Regions from separate parts of the Homo sapiens genome. Here region 2 is linked to region 1. A link means that fine-mapping ties the variant in region 1 to the expression of a gene that starts in the linked region. Tissue or cell type: T cells. Region 1 holds a variant in brackets; the other region holds the start of a gene. All regions are shown on one strand. Distances are from middle to middle.

The links. PIP is the estimated chance that this variant, and not a neighbour inherited with it, causes the effect.
Region 2: it holds the start of VSIG4, and the variant in region 1 is fine-mapped to the expression of VSIG4 in T cells (TOPMed, PIP 0.94).

What each region holds. Positions count from the first base shown.
Region 1 is chrX:65,943,934-65,949,903 of GRCh38, reverse strand. No RefSeq gene overlaps it. Among named protein-coding and RNA genes, the nearest start is that of MIR223HG, 69 kb to the left of the region's middle. The variant G/A (reference allele first, on the strand shown) is at 2,744.
Region 2 is chrX:66,037,924-66,041,923 of GRCh38, reverse strand. VSIG4 (V-set and immunoglobulin domain containing 4) reads left to right here and starts at 1,844. Exons shown (of 8, transcript NM_007268.3): 1 at 1,844-1,980. The coding sequence starts at 1,926.

The DNA of each region.
Region 1 (5,970 bases):
GAGGAGCGACATCAAATGCTTAACACTACGTGAGGAAGAGAGGGATAGACAACACTAAAGTAATCCAGTAAGTCACTAAACAAGCCAAAAGCATTAACAAACTCTAGAGGGTGGACCACCAGTACTCAGAGTTACTACAAAATATTACTTAAAACCCACGTGTCTAGCCTTTTGGCTTCCCTGGGCCACACTGGAAGAAGAAAAATTGTCTTTGCTAACATGAACACTAATGATTGCTCATGAGAAAAAGGAAAGTCAGTGCATAATTTGTGTGATCTACACCACCATAGATAAGCAAAAAATCCCCGAATTCAAAGGGCTGGACACCCGTGAAAATGATCTGGCTGAACACAGTGGCTCACACCTGTCATCCCAGCATATAGTGAGACCCTATCTCTATCTCTAAAAATAAAAATAAAAATATTCTGGTTTTTAACATAAAATTATGAGGAATACAAAGAAGAAATTATAATCTGTACACTAAAAAAGCAACTGCTAATGAGAAGAATCAGATGTTGGATTTATCAGAATGACTTTAAAGTAGCAATTATAAACATGCTCATAGAACTGAAGAAACCATGATTACAGAAGTAAAACAAGATATGATAATGTCATATCAAACTGAGAATATCAGCAGAAAGACAGAAATATTTTAAGATAACTTGCATGTTAATCATAGCACTATTTGCAATAACAAAGATATGATATCATTCTGTGTCCATCAGTCAATGCTTGGATTAAAAATGTGGTATATCTGCACAATCGAATACTGTTCAGCCATAAGAAGAATGAACTCATGTCTTTTGCAGCAGCATGCATAGAAGTGGAAGCCATTCTCCTGAGTGAAATAACTGAGATACAGAAAGACAAATACAATATGTTCGCATTTGAAAGTAAAAGCTAAATAAGGAGTACACATGGATGTACAGTGTGGGATAACAGACAATGGAAACTTGGAAAAATAGAAGTGGGGGGCTTGGAGTGGATAAGAAATTACTTAATGTTACAATGTACATTATTCAGGTGATGGATACCCTAAAAGCCCTAACTTCACTACTATGTAATCCCTCCATGTAATGAAACTATACTTGCATCCTGTAAATTTATACAAAAAAAAAGAAGAGCCTAATGAAAGCACTGAAGTTGAAAAGCAAAATAATTAAAATTTAAAATCCACTGGAGGAGACATTGATTGAACTGCCAGAAGAAGGAATAAGTGAACTTGAAGATAGAGTGATAGATATGCAAGCCAAAGAACAGAGAGAAAAAACAATAGAGAAAAATGAACACTGTCAGAGTAATGTGGGTCATCATTAAGTGCACCAACATATGTGTAATGTCAGTATCAGAAGAAGAAAAGGGGAAGAAGCAGAAAAACATATGTGAAGAAATAATGTCTTAAAACCTCACAAGGTTATCAAAAAACAGCATACACATTCAGGATGTTTAATGAACTTCAAATAGGATAAACACAAAGAGATCTACAAATAAATACATCATCATAGTAAAACTTCTGAAAGTCAAATTCAAGAAGAAAATTCTGAAAGCAACAAGAGAAAAACAGCTTATTATTTAGAAGGGAACTCTAATAGTATTAACAGCTGACTCCTCAGAAGAAACTATGGAGATCAATAAGGCAGTGGGAAAGCATTGAAATTATTCCGAAAAAAATTCTATCCACCAGGCATTCTATAGCCAACCAAACTATCATTCAAACATTAATAGAAATGGAAACTAGAAAAGCAAAAACTAGAAAAATTTGTTGCTAGCAAATCTGCCTTATAGAAAATAGTAAAGGAAATCTTCAGGATGAACACCAGTAATCCCATTTGGTAATTCAAATCCACACAAAAAAAGAAAGAGCACTGGTAAAGGAAATTTTGTAACTACAAAAGACAGTGTAAATGCATAGGTTTTGTATTTTTTTCTTCATTTGATTTAAAAAGCAATTGTGTACGATAATATGTATGTAATGTATTTTTGGGCCTTTAACTTATAGAAATGTAATATATATGTATTATATTTGTCACTAACAGCACAAAGGAGGTTGGCAAAAGTAAAGCTGTGCTGGGCTAAAGAAATAATTACCAATGATAAAATAATAATCATAACAATATGTTACCGGGTTTGTAGCATTAATTAATGTCATACATAGAACAATAATCCCACAAAATGAGGAAAAGATAATAGAGCTATCTATAAGTAGCATTTCTGAATTATGCTAGTATAAGTTTGAAGTGGATTCTATAAGTTAATATTTATATGGCATACCCTAAAGCAACACTTACAAATTCTTCAAAAACATATAGCAAAAAAAAAAAATTTAATTTAAAATGCTACATTAGAAAATATTTAGTTGAGTTGTCTTCACTGCTTCATGTCTTCTGTTAAAGGAGGCCCAGGTGATTCTGTCACAGGTTCTATTGCTCTGTGATCAGCAGGTACTCAGAGACACATAGGGGGATGCTGGGGCCCTTCAGAAGCTGGAAAACGGTTTCGCTGTCTCTAAGCCACACCTAATCACCTGTCTGGAGCAAAGTAAAGAGACCTGGAATGTAACAATAGAGAAGACAGTAGCTGTACATCCAGGATTCAAGATGGTCAACTAGAAACAGCCAGGAGAAACATCTCCCACTGAGAGACTGGGATATCAGAAAGACTGGCACACTTCAAGCAGATCTTTGGAGGGAAGGCATTAAGAATGGATGCGGGGGAGGATATAGACACTGGGCCAATGGGAGAA[G/A]AAGTTGGGAACCCTGCAGGGGGCTGAGGAGTACTGGGACTCATTCTTGGCTCCCAGAGACTCCTAAGAAAGGGGTGAGTTGAACAGGCAAGGAGTGGCCCACTCTCACTACACACCTCTGGAATCCTATCAGCAGGAGACCTCATGACCCCAGTGGACACTTGAGCTGGTAAAGAAAGCTGCTTTAGAGAGTGTCAGGGCAAGACTCCAGACTGTATGACATGATGATCATCCCGAAGACACATAGTCATCAAATTCTCCAAGGTTGAAATGGAAGAAAAAATGTTAAAGGCAGCTAGAGAGAAGGGGCGGGTCACCTACAAAAACAATACCATTAGGCTAACAGCTGATCTTTCAACAGAAACTCTAGAAACTGGAAAAGATTGGGGGCCCATATTTATCATTCCTAAAGAAAATTAATTCAAACCAATAATTTTATATCCAGCCAAATTAAGCTTCATAAGTGAAAAAGAAATAAGATACTTTCCATACAAGCAAATGCTAAGGAAATTCATTACTATCAGACCTGCCTTACAAGAGACCCTTAAGGGAGTGTTAAACACACTTCAGTACATAGACCATTGACACTACAAAACAACTACAAAATCAAGTCTGCATAATAACCAGCTAACAACATGACAGTATCAAATCTGCAAATATCAATATTAACCTTGAATGTAGATGAGCTAAATGCCTCAATTAAAAGACACTGAGTAGCAAGTTGGATCAAGAAGCAAAACCCAAATCTATGCTGTCTTTAAGAGATCCATCACACATGTAATGACATCCATATCTTAAAGTAAAGGGATAGAGAAAAATTGACCAAGCAAATGAAAAACAGAAAAAAGCAGGGGTTGCTATTCTAATTTCAGACAAAATAGAGTTGAAACCAACAATGATCCAAAAAGACAAAGACAGGCATTCCATAATGGTAAAGGGTTCAATTCAACAAGAAGATCTAACTATCTTAAATATGTATGCACCTAACATAGAAGAAGCTAGGTTCATAAAACAAGTTCTAAGAGGCCTGCAAAGAGACTTAGATAACCACACAATAATAATAGGAGACTTCAACACTCCACTGACATTATTAGATTATCATTGAAATGGAAAACTGAAAAAGATATTCTAAACTTACACTCAACACTTGATTAACTGGACCTAACAGACATATGACAGAACACTCCACCCAACAAGAATAGAATATACATTCTTCTCCTCTGCACATGACAAACACTCTAAAATCAACCATACAATTAGCCATAAAACAATTCTCAGCAAAATCAAAAACACTCAAATCATACCAACCACACTCTCAGTCAACAGTGCAATAAAAATTAAAATCAATACTAAGAAGATTGCTCAAAATGATACAATTACATGAAAATTAAACAATCTGCTTCTGAATGACTTTTGAGTAAAAAATGAAATTAACTAGAAAATCAAGAAATTCTTTGACATTTGGATTTTGCACCTTGATCCAACTTGCCACGTAGTGTCTTTTAATTGAGGCAAATTCTTTGAATGAGAACAAAGATGCAACATACCAGAATCTCTCAAACAAAGATAAAGCAGTGTTAAGAGGAAAATGTATGGCATGAAACTCCCACATCAAAAAGTTGGAAAGATCTCAAATTAACAACTTAACATCACTCCTACAAGAACTAGAAACACAAGATCAAACCAACCCCAAAGTTAGCAGAAGACAAGAAGTAACCAAAATCAGAGCACAACTGAATGAAATTGAATTGTGAAAAACCATACAAAAGCTCGACAAACCACAAGTTGGTTCTTGGAAGGAATAAATAGGATTGATATGCTGCTAGCTAGACTAATAAAGAAGAAAAGGGAGAAGATCCGAATAAACACAATTAGAAACGACAAAGAGGGTATTACCACTGACCCCACAGAAATACAAAAAAACCTCAGAGACTAGTATGAACACCTCTATGCACAGAAACTAGACATCGTAAAAGAAATTGATAAATTCCTGATAACATTCACCATTTCAAGATTAAACCACCAGCTGTATAAAGAAGACCTGGCACCATTCCTACTCCAAACTGCTCCAAAAACTTGAAGAAGAAGGACTCCTCCCTAACTCATTCTATGAGTCCAGCATCATGCTGACATCAAAACCTGGCAGAGACACAACCAAAAAGGAAAACTTCAGGACAGTACCCTTGATGAACATAGATGCAAAAATCCTGAACAAAATACTGGCAAACCAAATCCAGCATCACATCAAATGGTTAATACACCAGGCTTTATCCCTGGAATGGTTCAACATACACAAATCAATAAATGTAATTCATTACATAAGAGAACTAAAAACAAAGTCTACATAATCATCTCAATGGATGCAGAAAAGGGTTTTGATAAAATTCAACATCCCTTCATGTTAAAAATCCTCAACAAACTAGACATTGAAGGAACAAACATACCTTGAAAAAATTAGAGCCTTCTATGACAAACCCACAGCCAACATCATACTGAATGGAAGCATTCTCCTTGATAACCAGAACAAGACAAGGATTCCTACTGTCACAACTCCTGTTCAACATAGTACTGGAAGTTCTAGCCAGAGCAATTGGGCAAGAGAAAGAAATAAAAGGCATCAAAATAGGAAGAAAGATCATCGATATTGTTTGGCTGTGTCCTCACCCAAATCTCATCTCGAATTGTAGTTCCCATAATCCCCATGTGTTGTGGGAGGCACCTGGTGGGAGGTAATTTAATGATGGGGGCGGTTACTCCCATGCTGATCATGCTGTTCTTGTGCTAATGAGTGACTTCTCTTGAGGTCTGATGGTTTTAATGGGGCTTCCCCCTTCACTTGGCTCTCATACCTCTTCCTGCCGCCCTGTGAAGAGGGATGTGTTTGCTTCCCCTTCCGCCATGACTGTAAGTTTCCTGAGATCTCCCCAGCCATGCTGAACTGTGAGTTAATTAAGCCTCTTTTCTTTGTAAATTACTCAGTCTCAGGTAAGTCTTTATTAGCAGCATGATAATGGACTAATACAATAGTCAAACTATCTCTCTTCACAGATGATGTCATTCTGTATCTAGAAAACTTGACAGTCTTTGCCCAAAAGCTCCAAGATCTGATAAACAACTTTAGTAAAGTTTCAGAATACAAAATCAATGTACAATAATCAGTAGCATTTCTATACACCAACAACATCCAGGCTGAGTGCCAAATTAAGAAAAGTCTCTTTCACAACAGC
Region 2 (4,000 bases), 93 kb before region 1:
TTATATAGTTGTTATTGTATGTATAGTATAGTTTGATTTTTATAAATCTGAAAAGATACAAGCATCAAGTATAATTATGTTCATGTTACAATTAGGGAAGCTGAGGTTCAGAGAGATTTGACTTGTTCAAGATCTCAGAATGAAGTAGACACAGAGCCAGGCTTATCTCCAGGTTTCTGACTTCTCATCCAATTCTTTTACTAATCAAGAGGGCTACTGAGCCTACTGCAAGACTGGAAGTCTTTCCCAGCCTTGAAGTAATGTTGTGCATACTCCCCAGGACATTTATTTATCTTCAGATCCAGGAGGTCCTAATAAAATGCAAGAGGTAGCACAAAACACACAATCACCTGGCCAGGCAGAAATTTACATCTGTCCAGTGGGCTTTTTAGCGGGGAAGGGGAGGGGTGTGTGTGTGTGTATGTGTGTGCGTGTGTGTGTGTGTGTGTGTGTGTGTGTCTGTGCGGTGGTGGTGGTGTAGTGGTGATAGGGTGTTGGTTGAAAAATATCAAAGGAGGGTTCTGTGAAGTTCAGGGTTTCCTGAGTGAGGACCCGGTGGGAAAAAATGGCTGAAATTTCCAGTGAGATGGAATGAGTGCAGTACTCAAAAAACAAGGAACAACCAGCCAAGGGGGATTGGGCCCTAGAGGCAGAGGTGATTGATAGAATTCCATGTAATAATGTGTCCTGAAATGCTGGAATGTCTCCTTAGCCCGTGCACAGCTCCAAATCATCTGCATGCAGCCACCCCTTGGCAAGTATGTTTCTTTATATTCCCACTCCCCATCTCTGCACAAACTCCTCCCTCCCCTGACCAAGTCCTTTCCTATCCCTCCAATCAAAGAGTAAACTAAGCTTAGCTGTTACTTACAGTGCAGTATGAATTTTTGGGATGTATTTGTGCTTTTGAAAGTGCTTATTGTTTCAAAGCTTAGTAGACAAAGCGCAGTGCCAAACCTAGTTAGACTGCTGATGAAATTACAGTCACTCTGGGGCCTGTGAAGAGGAGCAATTTCTGGAGCAGTTGAGCTTTGCTAGGAGGCATAATATTACTCTCTTGTAGGTCAAGGGCCTGTACCAATTGGAAGTCAATGAAAAATTCAACCTAATACAGCATACCACTAATGGGCTGCTGCACTGGAGGCTAGGCTTAAATTTCCCTTAAAAGAAGTAAAAAATAAATTCCTTATGAAAAAGCATGGAGAACATTAATGAAAATGAATTCTCCCTTACCATCAGAGAGGTGGAGCCATTGTAGAAAGTGATTCAAAGAGCTTCCCCAATATGAGATATGAGGCATATTCACCCATAACAGCCTTATCCATTGGCTTGTCAATTATTCAAGCTTTGATGTGTAGAAAGCCCTTTAATACACTAAACTCTTGTACTCTTAAGCCCAAAAGCACCCCGGGCCCAACACCCTGTCCAGTTGCATAGGCTGCACAGGCAAGGGTTAACAGTACAACTAATGAAAATTGGGTAGGTCAGCAAAGTTGATCTCTTCTCCCTGGGCTCACCACAAAGGAAAACACCGCCATACTGGAGTGGGAAGACTCATCCCAAAGGTCGCCCCCACAACCTCTGAATCTTGTGGAGGAGACTCAAAATAAATACAGCCTAGGAGATCAAAGACCAGAAAGCCCCATTGGCTCCAAGGAAAGTCAAGTCAATACCCTAGCAGGGGGAAGAATTGCTTCACTCATCCTGGAACCTCCAACCCCAAGGAGGTGGGGGAAGGGGGGCACCCCACATGACCTGTACTGAAATAGGGAAGGAAGGGGAATGTGTGATGGGACTAGGAGTTTGAGTGAGAGATATAGGGAAGGAAGGGAAGTAAGCAGTCACAGACGCTGGCGGCCACCAGAAGTTTGAGCCTCTTTGGTAGCAGGAGGCTGGAAGAAAGGACAGAAGTAGCTCTGGCTGTGATGGGGATCTTACTGGGCCTGCTACTCCTGGGGCACCTAACAGTGGACACTTATGGTAAGGCAGAAAGGGGGGCCTGGCTGCCATTGCTGGCTTAGGCAAAAGGCTAGAGGGTTGGTGTTTAATGTCTACTATGGAAAGCCTATTCCTACTGGGCAGGTGAGTCTTCTCAGCCAAACTCTGCAGGCTCTCTCAGCCTTGAGCAAAACGGATGGATGTAGTTGAAGGCTGCTGAAGAAGCCAGAAGGCAAGTTTGGGCAGAAATTGAAAAAGGATTTTTCTCTTGGAAAACATCTGCATTATTTTCTAGGGCTTGTATCTCAGGGGCATCAAGAAGGTTCCCAATGACATCCGAATCTTTCCTCCATCTGCTGTCTCTCATCTAAAATTCTACAATTGGACTTAACCACTCTGCTTCCAAGCTTTGGTCTCTGTTAAAATATACAGCCCCCGAAGAAGGAGTGTTTTCTAAGAGTTGGATAGGACTATAGAAGTAACCTATACCACCCTTCATTGTCATGAATAAGTGCTCAGAAACATCCAGTAGTGATTGAGATTTCACTGTTCACTACCTCCCCAGACCATCTAGTCCATCCAGGAGCAGCTCCAACTGTTAGAAAGTTCTTATTTGTGTTGAACTAAATCCAGTTCCCTCTGACTTCCATCCAAAAACCCCAGCTTTGCTTCTTGGGGCTACACAGAACATAGATGCTTCCTTGCCCTGTGATAGCCCTTCAAAGCCCTGAGGACAAGTACTATGTCTCCTTGACTCTTCTCTCCTCCAAGCTGAACAGCCCCAGCTTTTTCAACTGGTCTTCATAGGACTTGGTTTCTTACCCATTCCTGGGATAACTCACTTCCCTATAGACATGGCTCAATTTGTCTGGGCTATTTATGGGCTGGATACAAATCCCAAAGGAGGATGGACTATTCCATAGTGGCATTATTTCCTTGGAGCTTGGGAAGCTCTATCCTCATCTACACTCCTGAGAAGTGAGATGGATTTTCAGGAAACTCAACCTGGGTAACAGCTAAGTGAGATCCAATATAGGGTAAAGGGGGATTTTGCTGCTTCCCTATCATCCCTAGAGAAAAAGGCTGGATAGGTGTTAGCTTGGTGTCACTTGTTAGGTCAGAAAGAATCCAGCTTTCCGTAGCTGACTCTGATTAGGTTACCCTATCCTGGGGCTCTGTGACCCATCACACTCTGGAACCTCAGAGTTAGAAAAGACTCTGAATTAAGTCAACCAAGAGAAAAAATAATTTGCCCCCAAGCCAAAGAGCATTAGTGGCAGAGTTAATGCTCCTGAAAAAACATTTTTCTTTCTATAACTACCACATTTCCATTCTCTAGCAGGTTTTATAATGTATCTCTCTACCTTCTCCAAGTCTGTTGGTTTGAGCTAGGGCTTAAGCCTGGGGCTTGAGGGAGCATTTTAGAAATGTTAAATTTAAATCCTTTGTTTGTGTGTGTGTATGTGTGTGTGCATTCATGTGTGTGTGTGTGTGTGTGTGTGTGAGAGAGAGAGAGAGCACTCATGTGTCTTGTTCCTTCCCCAGCCTATGAGCTTTTCCAGACCTGGAAGCAGGCCTTCCATTTGTACACAGGATCTTATACTATAGACCTCAGGCTCAGGTTATGCTGAGCTGCAAATAATACCTTCCCTCTCCCTGGACCTCATTGTTCCTAGCCCATCTGTACAGTGAGGAGGTTGACTTGACTGGTCTTAAAGGGGTTTCTCAGCTGGACAACTCTGTGGGACTGCAGCTTCACTGCTAAAAACCCTGTAGCGGCCAGAGTAAGCTGCTAGCCTCTTCCTGTGGGGCTAAGAGATATGTCAAGATAATCAAAATTTAAAAAATTTCTAATATTCACATTTTATATACATTTTAAACATTTCAGAAACATTTTATAAACATCTATTATATAAGTTAATCCTCCATCCAGGAGGCATTCCAGGAAAGGGAGAGAAGCCAGTCATGTGGGGGAATGGGATAGAGATATGGAAAATGTCAACCTCTTTGTGATGATGGGAGGAAGGGGATTCAGAAAGAGACCTAGAATGGGTCTTATAAA